Regions from separate parts of the Homo sapiens genome. Here all the other regions are reported to be linked to region 3. The links are microRNA targets in miRTarBase. Many come from high-throughput screens and were not tested one by one. Region 3 holds a microRNA gene; each other region holds the end of a gene's coding sequence.

What was found. The annotated mature microRNA hsa-miR-4776-5p reads GUGGACCAGGAUGGCAAGGGCU and lies in region 3 at 2,893-2,914, opposite strand. An mRNA with a match to its seed (bases 2 to 7 or 8) in the 3' UTR can be bound and repressed. Matches are read on the target gene's strand: a 7mer-m8 pairs with bases 2 to 8, a 7mer-A1 pairs with bases 2 to 7 and ends in A, and an 8mer does both.
Region 1: miRTarBase lists ZNF284 as a target of hsa-miR-4776-5p. Seed matches in the 3' UTR shown: 7mer-m8 at 2,708-2,714.
Region 2: the mRNA of ARGFX is a reported target of hsa-miR-4776-5p. Seed matches in the 3' UTR shown: 7mer-m8 at 2,613-2,619.

Annotation. Positions count from the first base shown.
Region 1 is chr19:44,086,864-44,090,863 of GRCh38, reverse strand. ZNF284 (zinc finger protein 284) reads right to left here. Exons shown (of 5, transcript NM_001037813.4): 5 at 1,251-4,000. The coding sequence ends at 3,604. Among named protein-coding and RNA genes, the nearest start is that of ZNF224, 5.5 kb to the left of the region's middle.
Region 2 is chr3:121,586,299-121,590,604 of GRCh38, reverse strand. It overlaps ARGFX (arginine-fifty homeobox), which reads right to left. Exons shown (of 5, transcript NM_001012659.2): 5 at 1-4,306. The coding sequence ends at 4,005. Among named protein-coding and RNA genes, the nearest start is that of FBXO40, 4.9 kb to the left of the region's middle.
Region 3 is chr2:212,923,414-212,927,769 of GRCh38, forward strand. MIR4776-2 (microRNA 4776-2) reads right to left here and starts at 2,923; the gene lies at 2,844-2,923. It overlaps MIR4776-1 (microRNA 4776-1), which reads left to right and starts at 2,844; the gene lies at 2,844-2,923.

The DNA of each region.
Region 1 (4,000 bases), not on the chromosome of region 3:
ATACCAAAATTAATTTATATATATTATACTAGCAATGAACACACGGAAATCAAAGTTCATACCTAGATGGAAGTTTGACAAAAGATGTACAAGGGTTGTAAGATGAAAATTACAACACACTGATGAAGAAAATCCAACAATATTAAATGAATGGAGACACATTCCATGTTTGAGGATCGTGGGACTCAATATAGCAAAAATGTTCATTCTCCCCAAATTGATACACAGGGTTAAAATAATTACTATCAAAATTCCAGCAAGATATTTTGTAGATATAAAATTATTCTAAAATTTATATGGAAAGGCAAAGGAACTAGAATATGAGTATGGTTAGGGTTGTCTTCACAGTTGAAAATCTTTCATTTAACCAGAGACATTATAGGGGAGACACTCTGTAAAAAGCTGGTCTCAAACTCTTAGATTCAATTGATCCTTCTGCCTCAGCCTCCCAAAGTGCTGGAATTACAGGTGTGAGCCACCATGCCTGGCCACTTACAAGAGACTTACAAAAGTGAGGCACTAAATTATTAAAGTAAAAATCAATAAATTTCCTTGAAAAATGCCCTGTATAAATGTGATTATTGTATTTTCAGCTTCAGTTTGATTTCACATCACCATCAAAATCAAGGAGCACATAAAAGAAAGCAAGCTTGTTTACTTTTATTTTTATTTTTATTTTTTTGAGATGGAGTCTCACTCTGTCACTCAGGCTGGAGTGCAGTGGCGTGATCTCGGCTCACCGCAACCTCCACCTCCCTGGTTCAAGCAATTCCCTTGCCTCAGCCTCCTGAGTAGCTGGGATTACAGGCACACGCCACCACCACACCCAGCTAATTGTTTTGTATTTTTAATAGTGATGGGTTTTCACCATGTTGGCCAGACTAGTCTCAAACTCCTGACCTCAGGCACTCTGCCCACCTCGGCCTCCCAAAGCGCTGGGATTACAGGTGTGAGCCACCGCACCTGGCCAAAAGCAAGGTTATTATACTCACTTTGGCACGGGAGAAGACCTCTCATAACCAGCAGACAATTTTCTCAGAAAACCTATGTGTAATGAATGTGGACAAGGATTCGGTGATGGCTCTAGACTTGAAATTCATCACTAACTAGATTTAGGAGACAGCCCCAATATCTTTAATAAAATATATGGGCTTTAACGATAGCTGAGTTTTTCCCATTCATGAGTTTTCATCCATAAGCCCATCACCTTGTCAGTGTTGGAAACTTCAGAAATGTGATGCACCTTCAGATGGATTAAAGTCTTCACGTTTATTAAGGAGTCCATGACAATGCTACATCTTTTACAGATAATGAGTATGGTTAGGGTTGTCTTCACATTTGAAACCCTTTCATTTAACCAGAGACATTACAGGGGAGACACTCTATAAAAAGTATGTGCTTTAAATATTCCTGCTTATGTTATGTTCATCTTTATGCCAATATTTTTATGCTGTCCAATTCATCAGATTTTCTTTGTTGTTTAGTGATTTCCACGCCCCCCACCCCCAAATACTAGCCTTCCCAAGTTTGTGGAAACAGTGTACTATTTTGTTATAGAAACTAAAGAAGATCAATCAGGGGTGGTGGTCCATGCCTGTAGTCCCAGCTTCTCAGGGGATTGAAGCAAGAGGATCACTTAGGCCCAGGAGTTCGAGGCTATAGGGCACTGTAACTGCATCTGTGAATAAGCAATCCAGCCTGGGCAACACCGAGAGACCCCATCTCAAAAACAAAACAAAACAAAACAAAATGCTGTGCGCATGGCTCAGGCCTGTAATCCCAGCACTTTGGAAGGCTGAGGAGGGAGAATCGCTTGAGCCCAGGAGTTTGAGACCAATTTGGGCAACATAGTGAGACCCCATCTCTACAACAAAAATTTAGCCAGGCGTGTTGTTGCATGCCTATAGTCCCAGCTTTTGAGGGGCTGAGGCAGAAGGATTTCTTGAGCCTGGGAGGTCAAGGCTGCAGGGAGCCGTGATCATTCCACTGCATGCCAGTCTGGGTGACAGAGCAAGACTGTCTCAAAAGAAAAAAAAAAAAAAAGCCAATTCTTGCCTAATAATGGTCAGAGTTTATAGTGGTACAACCAGTTTGAAATACTTTTCGGAAGTATCTACTAAAATTAACATATTCATATCTTATAACTCTTTGCTGTCACATATATCACATTATTAAGGTTTCTCTACAGAACAGACACTGAATTTGAAGATGTGAGCCCTGACTGAAGCATGTACCACAATCTCCACACTTCCATGGTTTTTCTCCAGTGTAGATCCTCTTATGCATATCAGCATTCAAGTGATCCAGCAATCCCACTACTAGCTGTATATCCAAAGGAAAGGAAATCAGTGTGTTGAACTCCTATCTGCACTCCTATATTTATTATAGTACTATTTGCAATAGCTAACATATGGAACCAATCTAAGTGTTCATCAACAGAAAATGGTAAAGAAAATGTGGCATACATACACAAAGGTACACTATTTAACCATAAAAAATAATAAAATTCTGTCATTTATGGCAAGATAAAGATAAGCTTTGGAGAACATGATGTTGAGTGATGTAAATTCAGGCCCAGAAAGATAAATACCACATGTTTTCACACATATGTGGAAGCTAAAAAGTTGACATCATAGAAGCAGCATAGCATTGGCTGGGCACGGTGGCTCATGCCTGTAATCCCAGCACTTTGGGAGGCCAAGGCAGGTGGACCATTTGAGTTTGGGAGTTCAAGGCTAGCCTGGCCAATGTGGTGAAACCCCATCTTCACTAAAAATACAAAAATTTTTAGGCATGGTGGGCATGGTGGCTCACGCCTGTAATCCCAGCACTTTGGGAGGCCGAGGTGGGCGGATCATCTGAAGTCAGGAGTTCAAGTCCAGGTTGGCCAATATGGCAAAACCCCATCTCTACTACGCATACAACAATTAGTCAGGTGTGGTGGCGGGCGCCTGTAGTCCCAGCTACTCGGGAGGCCAAGGCAGGGAAGAATCGTTTGAACCCAGGAGGCAGAGGTTGCAGTGAGCCGAGATCAAGCCATTGCACTCCATACTGGGCGACAGAGCGATACTCTGTCTCAAAAAAAAAAAAAAAAAAGTACAAAAATTAGCTGGGCGTGGTGGTGCGTGCCTGTAATCCCTGCTACTCAGGAGGTTTAGGCAGGAGAATCGCTTGAACCCAGGAGGTGGAGGCTGCAGTGAGAAAGGATCATGCCACTACACTCAAGCCTGGAAGACTCTGTTCTCAAAAAAAAAAAAAAAAAAAAAAAAAAGCAGAAGCAGCATGGCATAGCAATTACTAGAAGGGAAAAGTAGGAGAGAGGGTGGATGATGAAAGATTCGTTAACAGATATGAAAGTACAGTAAGATGATGAAAGGAACAAGTTCTAGTGTTCCACAGCACTAAAGGTGACTATAATTAATAATAACTTATTTTCAAATAACTAGAACAGCAGTTTTTGAACGTTCAAAGCACAAAGAAATGATAAATGATCCACAAATAAATGATAAAGGAGGTGATGGATATGCTAATAACACTGATTTGATCATTATACATTGTATACATGTATTGAAATATGCTGTAACCCATAAATATGGACAATAATTATATATCATTTAAAAATAATGATAAAATCATATCTAGATTCAAGCGCCTCTCGTAGCGCTTCCCACAGTCCTCACATTTGGATGTTTTTTCTCCACTGTGGTCGCTTTGTTGGTCTTGAAGGCATGAACTGTGCTCACTGCTCTTCCCACAATCCTCACATTGGAATAGTTTTTCTCTGCTGTGGAGTCTTTGATGGGTTAGATGAGTTGAGGCCCATCTGAATCCCTTTCCACACTCCTCACATTTGTAAGGCTTTTCTCCAGTGTGAATTCTTTGATGGAAACGAAGTTTTGAATTCTCAGTAAACCTCTTCCCACACTCTTCACATTTGAATGGTTTTTCTCCAGTATGGAGTCTCTTATGTCTCAAAATACCTGAGGCCCACCTGAAGCTC
Region 2 (4,306 bases), not on the chromosome of region 3:
TCTTACAGTTCTGAAGGCTGGGAAGTCTTCCAGTCTCAGACGGAAGATGGAGGGGCCACACCTGGCCAGGGCCTTCATGTTTCATCCTCCCATGGCAGAAGGAAGGGAGAGGAGGAGGTAAGAGAGAGAGAGAAAGATAGAGGTGGGGGTGGGGATAAAGATTTTGGGGAAGAAGAAGGCCGAACTCATCCTTTTATCAGGAACCCACTTCTGAGATAACTAACCCACTCCCACAATAATGGCATTAATCCATTCATGGGGGCTCTGCCTAGTAACCCTTAAAGGTCTCACCTCTCAAAGCTGTTGCTTTGGGGATTAAGTTTCCAACGCATGAGCTGTGGGGGACACATTCATACCATAGCAAGCTCTATTCACAACATCTATTTCTTGTGGAGTCAGATTTGGTATTCTGTGTCTTCCTAGGAATTTGTCCATTTCATTTATCTAATTTGTTGGCATTCAATTGTTCATAGTATTTCTTTCTAATAATTTTTATTTCTATAAGTTTGGTAATAAAATCTTGACTTTTGTTTCTGATTCTAGTAATTTGAGTCTTTTGAGGGGGTGGTCAATCTAGCTAAATGTTTGCCATTTTGTAGATCTTTTCAAAGAACCAGCTTTTGATTTCATAATTTTTTTTCTGTATTGCTTTTCTATTCTCTATTTCATTTATTTCTGTTCTAGGCTTTCCTTCTTTCTGCTTTCTTTGGACTGTTATTATCAATTATTGAGAATGTTCTATGAATATACCACATTATGACTATATATTAGTGAAGTTTTCTTAAGAATTTTAATTTTTGCTAAAATTTGCCTCATATATTTTTGGTATATGTTGTTAAGTATATTTAAGTTCAAAGTTATTATATATTTCAGGTTAGTTGTTCCTTTTGTTGTTGTCTAATATACTTCATTTCTAAAAAAACTGTTTTGGCCAGGTGAGGTAGCTCACACCTGTAATCTCAGCCCTTTGGGAGGCTGAGACGGGAGGATCACTTGAGCTCAGGAGTTTGAGGCCAGCCTGGGCAACATGGCAAAACCTGTCCCTACTAAAAATACAAAAATTAGCTGGGTGTGGTGGCGTACACCTGTAGTCCCAGCTACTTGGGAGGCTAAAGCAGGAGAATCATTTGACCCAGGAGGCGGAGGTTGCAGTGAGCCGAGATTGCACGGCCTGGGTGACAGAGCAAGACTCCATCTCAATAAAAAAGTTTTGCCTTGAAGTTTAATTTGACAGATATTGATAAAACTATGCCACTTCCTTCCTATGTAAAGCTACTTTTAAAAAATATGTATATAAGTATTTGAAGCTATAAATTTCCTTCTAAGCATTGATTTAGCTTCATCCCATGTTTTGGTTTGTTGTGCTTTTGTTTTTTTCAGTTAAAAGTGTTTTCCAATTTTACTCATGATTTCTTCTATTTATTTATTTATTGAGACAGTATCACTGTGTTGCTCAAGCTGGAGTGCAGTGGCACAGTCACAGCTCACTGCAGCCTCGACCTCTGTGGCTCAAGGGATGCTCTTACCTCAGCCTCTCGAGTAGCTGGGACCATGGGCTCTGGCCGTCATGCCCAGCTAATTTTTTATTTTTTGTAGACACAGGGTTTTGCCATGTTGCTCAGACTGTGATTACCTCTTTAACCACTGGTTATTTAGGAATGTGTTGTTTAATATCCACATATTTGTGAATTTCCCAAATTTTATTGATTTCTAATTTCGTTCCATCATGTTTGGAGAACACACTGCATAGTTTCAATCCTTGTGATTCTCCTGCCTCAGCCTCCCAAGTAGCTGGGACTACAGGTGTGTGCCACCATGCCCAGCTAATTTTTTTTTTTTTTTGTATTTTTAGTAGAGGCAGGATTTCACCATGTTGGCCAGGATGGTCTTGATCTCTTGACCTCGTGATCTGCCCGCCTTGGCCTCCCAACGTGCTGGGATTACAGGTGTGAGCCACTGCGCCTGGCCTATTCAAAACATTTTCTATGTCCTTTTTTAAGTTTTGAAGTTTTCTCCACAGAGGTATTAATTTTTTTGTGAATTTCTAGGTACTTTTACATTTTTCATTGAGAGGTACTTATCTTATGTTTCTTTTATTTTTTATTTTTTATTTTTTATTTTTTTTTTGAGACAGAGTCTTGCTCTGTTGTCCAGGCTGGAGTGCAGTGGTGCGACCTCAGCTCACTGCAACCTCCACCTCCCAGGTTCAAGCAATTCTCCTTCCTCAGCCTCCCGAGTAGCTGGGATTACAGGTGTGTGCCACCATGCCTGGCTTTTTTTTTTTTTTTTTTTTGTATTTTTAGTAGAGACGGGATTTCACCATGTTAGTCAGGCTGGTCTCAATCTCCTGACCTCGTGATCCGCCCGCCTCGGCCTCCCAAAGTGCTGGGATTACAGGCATGAGCCACCACCCCCAGCCCTTATGTTTCTTTATTACTGGTGTTCAGAAATGGTATTAATTTTGTAGGTTGATCATGTGGCTGGAAAATATGCTAACTTGTCATTCTAAAAGTTTGACTCTTTATTTTGTGAGTTTTGCAAGTTTATCATCTCACCTTCAAAAATCTGTTTTTATTTCTTCCTGTGATAGTTTTTACACCTCTTATTATGTCTGGACCATTGTACTATATATATATATATTATTTTTTCATTGTACTATATTAAAACTAGTGGTGACAGTAATTTCCCCTCAAATTAGGACTGAAAGTCTCATTTTAAAAAAACCCAAATTCAGCCTGGGCAACAAGGCGAAACCCCATCTCCACTAAAAATACAAAAATTAGCCAGACATGGTGGCGCATGTCTGTAGTCTCAGCTACTCAGAAGGCTGAGGTGGGAGGACTGTTTGAGCCCAGGAGGCAGAGGCTGCAGTGAGCCAAGATGGTGCCACTGCACTCCAGCCTGGGTGACAGAGTGCTGTCTACAAAAAACAAATAACAAACAAAAAATGAAAAATTGGAAACAAAATGTAAGTTTATAACTTTCTGTCATTAAAAGTGGATGATAGTGTACTCACTTCCACAACACATATACTAAAATCAGAATGATACAGAGAGAAAAGTGGATGATGGTTTCTTCGGTTTCCTTGAAAAAAAGTGTTTTTAAACTAGATAACCCAGCCGGGTGCGATGGTGCACTCCTGTATTCCTAGCACTTTGGGAGGCTGTGGCAGGTGGATGGCGTTAAGTCCAGGAGTTGGAGACCAGCCTGGGCAACATGGCAAAACCTCGTCTCTACAAAAAACACAAAAATTGGCCAGGCTCGGTGGCTCATGTCTGTAATCCCAGCACTTTGGGAGGTCAAGGCAGGCGGATCACTGGAGGTCAGGAGTTCAAGACCAGCCTGGGCAACGTGGTGAAACCCCGTCTCTACTAAAAATACAAAAGTTAGCCAGGCATGGTGGCACACGCCTGTAATCCCAGCTACTCAGGAGGCTGACACAGGAGAATCACTTGAACCCCAGGAGGTGGAGGTTGCACTGAGCTGAGATCCCGCCACTGCACTCCACCCTGGGTGACAGTGCGAGACTCAGTCTCAAAAAAAAAAAATTAGCCAGGTGTGGTGGCGAGCATCTGTAGTCCTAGCTACTCAGGAGGCTGAGGTGGGAGGATCACCTGAGCCCAGGAGGTCAAGGCTTTTGTGAGCCGTGACTGTACCACTGTATTCCAGCCTGGGTGACAGAATGAGAGCTAGTTTCAAAAAAATAAAAGTGGATAACCCCCAAAACCACTGTCCTACTTTTAGAAAATCCAAGATAGTTTTGGGAAGGGAATTTTGGAGTCTCATTGGCCATGAAAGGGACTAGGCAGGCTTCTCAGGGAGACTTGTGGGGCTGATTACGTAGTGCCCAGCTCTACTTGGAAAACTCTTTTTGCAACATTTACATGGAAATCAGAGACACAGACCCAGATGTTGGGTTAAAATGAGACAAAGGAAAAAAACAGTCATGTACAAGAGGCAAGAAGACCACTTTTCTAAATGATCTATATTTATTAGTACTCTGGTCAGAGAAATCCCAAGTCTACCATATTGGAGGTTTTCTGGAATTCCAGGCTATCTGTTAGACTGTAGGCTTCAAAGGCTTGGCTTGTCATATTGGGCCAGGTTTGTGCAGGAGATAGGCCTACAGCTGGACCAGCAAAGATGCTGAGAGAGGAACCCTGTCCTCCTACCTGGTACTTTGTGGGTGAGAGATACTGATACAGACAGTGGAAAGAAGAGCTGGATATCTCATTCTCATCAGGAAGATTGTACAGTTCTATGATTTGGAATATGTCATAGGCATCAGAGTACAAAGCAGGAACCG
Region 3 (4,356 bases):
AACCAGGAGAGATACTTAACACAATGTATGCCCTTAGGAAAAAAAAGTAGAATAGCATTATCAAAGGCTCTGATTTCTAGATACAGGTGTGCTCTGACTTTTTCATGCTTTCCTTTTTCTCTCTGAAATATGGGAATAATACCCCCTGTCACTGAGCCACTGGAATGTTGAGGAGACAATGAGTTAGCATTGGAAAACAATTCAGGGTGAAAGGTGCGGATGTGAGCTCAAGGTATTTGTTAATGTTATTACTCAATCCATTCTGGCCCAGTGTGGAAACAAAAGCAACTTTTATTACAAATAACACAACATTGTTAAAATAACCTTAGGAAAGAGAGAATAAATGAATCTACCAAGATAAATAGATAGCAGCTGGGTTATTGAGACCTCATGTTGAGGTTACAGGCTTTTAACACTAAATGCAATGTTCTTTTAATTTTCAAGTAAGAATCATTTGGTGAAAAAAGTAGGTAACCTATTAGTGCCTGTCTATAAAAGAGTGAGGACTTAGATTTCTAAATGCATACTAACAAGTATATTTATAAAGACAGATTTTATTACCTGATTGTATAAAGCAGAAGTCTCCTTTAACAGATTAAAAGAAGAGGTGGGTGGAATATGCTAACAAACAAAGGTCCATGTGTGAATCGGGGGATATTCAGGACTTAACTAGACTTCAGCAGACTCATTTAGGATCTTAAACACTGTCCCAAGTCCAAAATTCACATTTAAGCTGAGAGCAGCTAGGACTTTACTATCTATCTATGGTTTAAGTTGTCTTCCACTCGGCTTGTAAAGCCTAGAGTGTCACTGTTTCTGCCCACAGATAGCTGTCAATCTTGGCCCATAAGGAGATGGAACCATAGGAAATGTTTCATCTCCACTCCCAGCACTTCTTTCCATATAAAAAGATTTCCACTAGCACAGCAGTCCTGACATCTCTGTTCTCAGGAGAAGAGGGAATCATTTAATGTTATTGAGTCCCTTTACCTCCTCATTCTCTTGAGAGCTATGTGCATAGAGAAAGCATACTTTCTGCTCTGCTATTTCAGACCCTACATTTTAGAGTACATTGTCTAATGTTGGAAATAAGGTAGGTAAGTCTCTCTAAATCTGAGATTCAGTGATAGTAAGGCGATCCTCCAAAATCAACTTTAACAATGATAAAATTGATAATTTCCTCTCTATCTATCTTACTCTGTTTTTCAATGACTCAGACTCAGCTGGAGAAGAGAGATGTTCCCTCTCTTGAGCTCACTAAAGACATTCAACAACATGTAATACAATGGGTGGGACATTTGTCTTTTCCAGGCCAAGGAAAAGGAAAACAAACTTAGGTCCCCAAAGACTTAGGATAAAATATCACAGATATAAACTTAGCAAAGTTGAACTCAGCTGTTAGAAAATGGAATTGGATTAGTTTCCTGTGGCTGCTATAACAAATCACCACAAACTCAATGGCTTAAAACCACATAAACTTATCCTCTCACAGTTCTAGGGGACAAAACTCCAAAATCAGTTTCACTAGGCCTACATCCAGGAGTTAGCCAGGCCATGCTCCCTCTGGGAACTCTAAGAGAGAATCTGGCCTTTCCTCTTCCTGCTCATGGGACTGCCAGCACTTCTTGGCTTGTGGCTGCATCACTCCCATCTGCCTCCCTGATCACATTGCCTTCTCCTCGTTGTCAGCTCTCCCTCTGCCTCTCTCTCATAAGGATATACGTGACTGCATCTAGGGCCCATTCTAATAAGCTGTGATAACCTCTTCATCACAATATCCTTAACTTAATCATACCTATAAAGACCTTAAATTTTTAATGTTTTAATTGTTTTTAATTTAAAAATGTCTTTTCTTAGGTTCCTACAGACAGAAACCTTTTTTCTGTATCAGGTAGTATTTACAGATTCTAAGGATTAGGACCTGACGTCCTCGGGGGACTATTTTTCCACATGAGTTCAATAGTCTTGAATAAATATCATTTATATCTCTTTTCTTCTTTTCTCTATGTTCTGAAATTTTACAATTTAAGATGCAAAAATATGTGGTCTAATATCATAGTTTTAGAGAATTAAGAAGGTAAATTCATCCTAGAGTTTGGATCAAACAAATAATATTTAGAAGGAATATATCATAAGGTGATAACTTTGTATGTCGGTATATATGTAAGTGTGGGTGTGTGTAAATCATTAAATTTCCATATATATACCATATAATTTTCTACCTGAAATGTTGTGAGTTAAATCAAAAAATGTAAATTATTCCTACATATCATTAATATTATAAATTCAGGACCATAGTTATTTATATATTTATTTTTAAAATTCTGGTTGAAGCATTTGGTGAAACAGTTCCAGAATTGAGTTTTTTATTCTTTCTATATGTGGAGCATATGGTAAAATTATTCCTATTTCTAATATGAGTTTGGTATTTTATTGTTAAACTCTAGAAAACAACCACCTTTTAGCCAAGAACCTTTGCCCTCTAAGACACACTCAATTGTATTTTACTTTTGCTACCAACATTTAGGGGTTAGTTTACTTTGTGTTATCATATTCCACCAATATTCAAAAGATTTATCACTTGGCAAGAGTTACTGATGACACTCCATGAGTAGGAAACCTCAAATCTTGGTGAAGGGCAGGCACTGAGCTTCTGCTAAGCACTCTCACTAGCTAAGAAACTTGTGCTACATACTACATGTGCCCTGTTTCAGTTAGGACAGGCTATGATATCGTAACAAATAGACCGCCAAATTCAGCTTCTCATGTTTGAGGGAAAAACACATCTATCTCTCTTTTGGACAACAGTCCAGGATGAGGGTTCCAGGTCAGTGGGAGCTCGGCTATATGCAGTGGACCAGGATGGCAAGGGCTCTCCTGAAAGGACAGTAGAGCCCTTGCCATCCTGGTCCACTGCATATAGTCTGCTCCATCTCAGGAAGCCAGAAGGTAGAAGGGGATGCAAAAACACAGCAGTGCAAGAGCTCTAGTATGTGGCCACACAGAATTGCAATGGAGACTGGGAAGTATAGTCTAGCTGTGTGCTCAGGAAGAAGAGGAGAAGGGATTTTGGTAAACAGCTGGCAGTCTTTGCTGCATGCATTATTTCTGCCTCAGCAAAATAAAAGTTGACTATGTAAAACAGAGGTCATGTGTGTAGAGGTCATTGTGTATACCCTTGGGATATACACAAGCATTCAAACCAATGAATAGTGAGAATTTATTCTACCCAAGCAACTATTTATGCCGAATATTCAGAAGGGGAGGGGAGCAGGAAAGAAATGGTTTATTTTCTTTAAATTATTGAAAATATTAGCTTATATCAATTTTCTCAAGTGATGAAAATGCAGGGGTTAAGCCTTTATTTTTTTTTTAAAGTAAATATTAGTATTATGTAGTATATGTTAAGAAGGTTTTTTTCTCTTCATTTCTTAATCTATTGAGGGAAGGACTAGGCAAATGAAGTTAGGCTTCTTTTCTCAGGGGGCCTAACTGTTGGCCCAGGCTGGGTTCCAAGAACTAATACAAGGAATGGTAACTGGTGGGGTTGTCTTTTTGCTGAATGAAGAGAAGAAAAGAAGAATTCCAAGTCTGTTTCCCAGGCACAGGAAGGACCAGGAAGCAAGGAAACTTCCAATTTTCAAGTCCACTGAGCAGAATACAAGAACAGGGTCCAAAACAAAGAGTTCTCCGTTGAGAACCGGCAAGATGGAGCAAGCAAGTCCTGCAGGCAGGCTGGGCCTGGAGAGGCGCCAAGAGGCCACAGCACTCTTGGGAGGAGGTTTTTCTGGACTCTTGAGGAGCTGAGACTTTTATATTCCAACCCTGCCTTTAATTTGAGGTTTGCCTCCTCCCTCCATTTGCAGAAGAGTAATCCGAAGCTAAATCATTCATAACATGAGAATGCTGATCTGTGTCCAGCCCTTGTGAAGGGAAAAGAAAACAAAACTTCACAAACATAATTAGTAGAACTACCTATAAAACCTAATGTTAAAAGAGAAATTAGCTTTCATGGAGAGAAAGTGTGATGGCATGACACAGAAATTAAGTGCACTGAATTTAGATTTGAAAAGAGTTTGATTCAATTCATGTCCCTGCTTCCCAGTAGTCCGTGACCTTGGGCAAGTGACCTATACTCTCTAAATCTTAGTTTCCTTATCTGTAAGATGGGAGATGAAAATAATACCTAATTCATATTTTTTAAGAACTTAATGAAAGAATGTTCAAATGTATCTAATAAGGTATAGGAACTCAACACATGCCAGTTAAACAAATTTCTAATAATTGACTTTCTTATTTCTTCCTTTCTGGGTAAAACAACTGTCCTTTGTATACTTTCATTTTTTGGAGACAGAG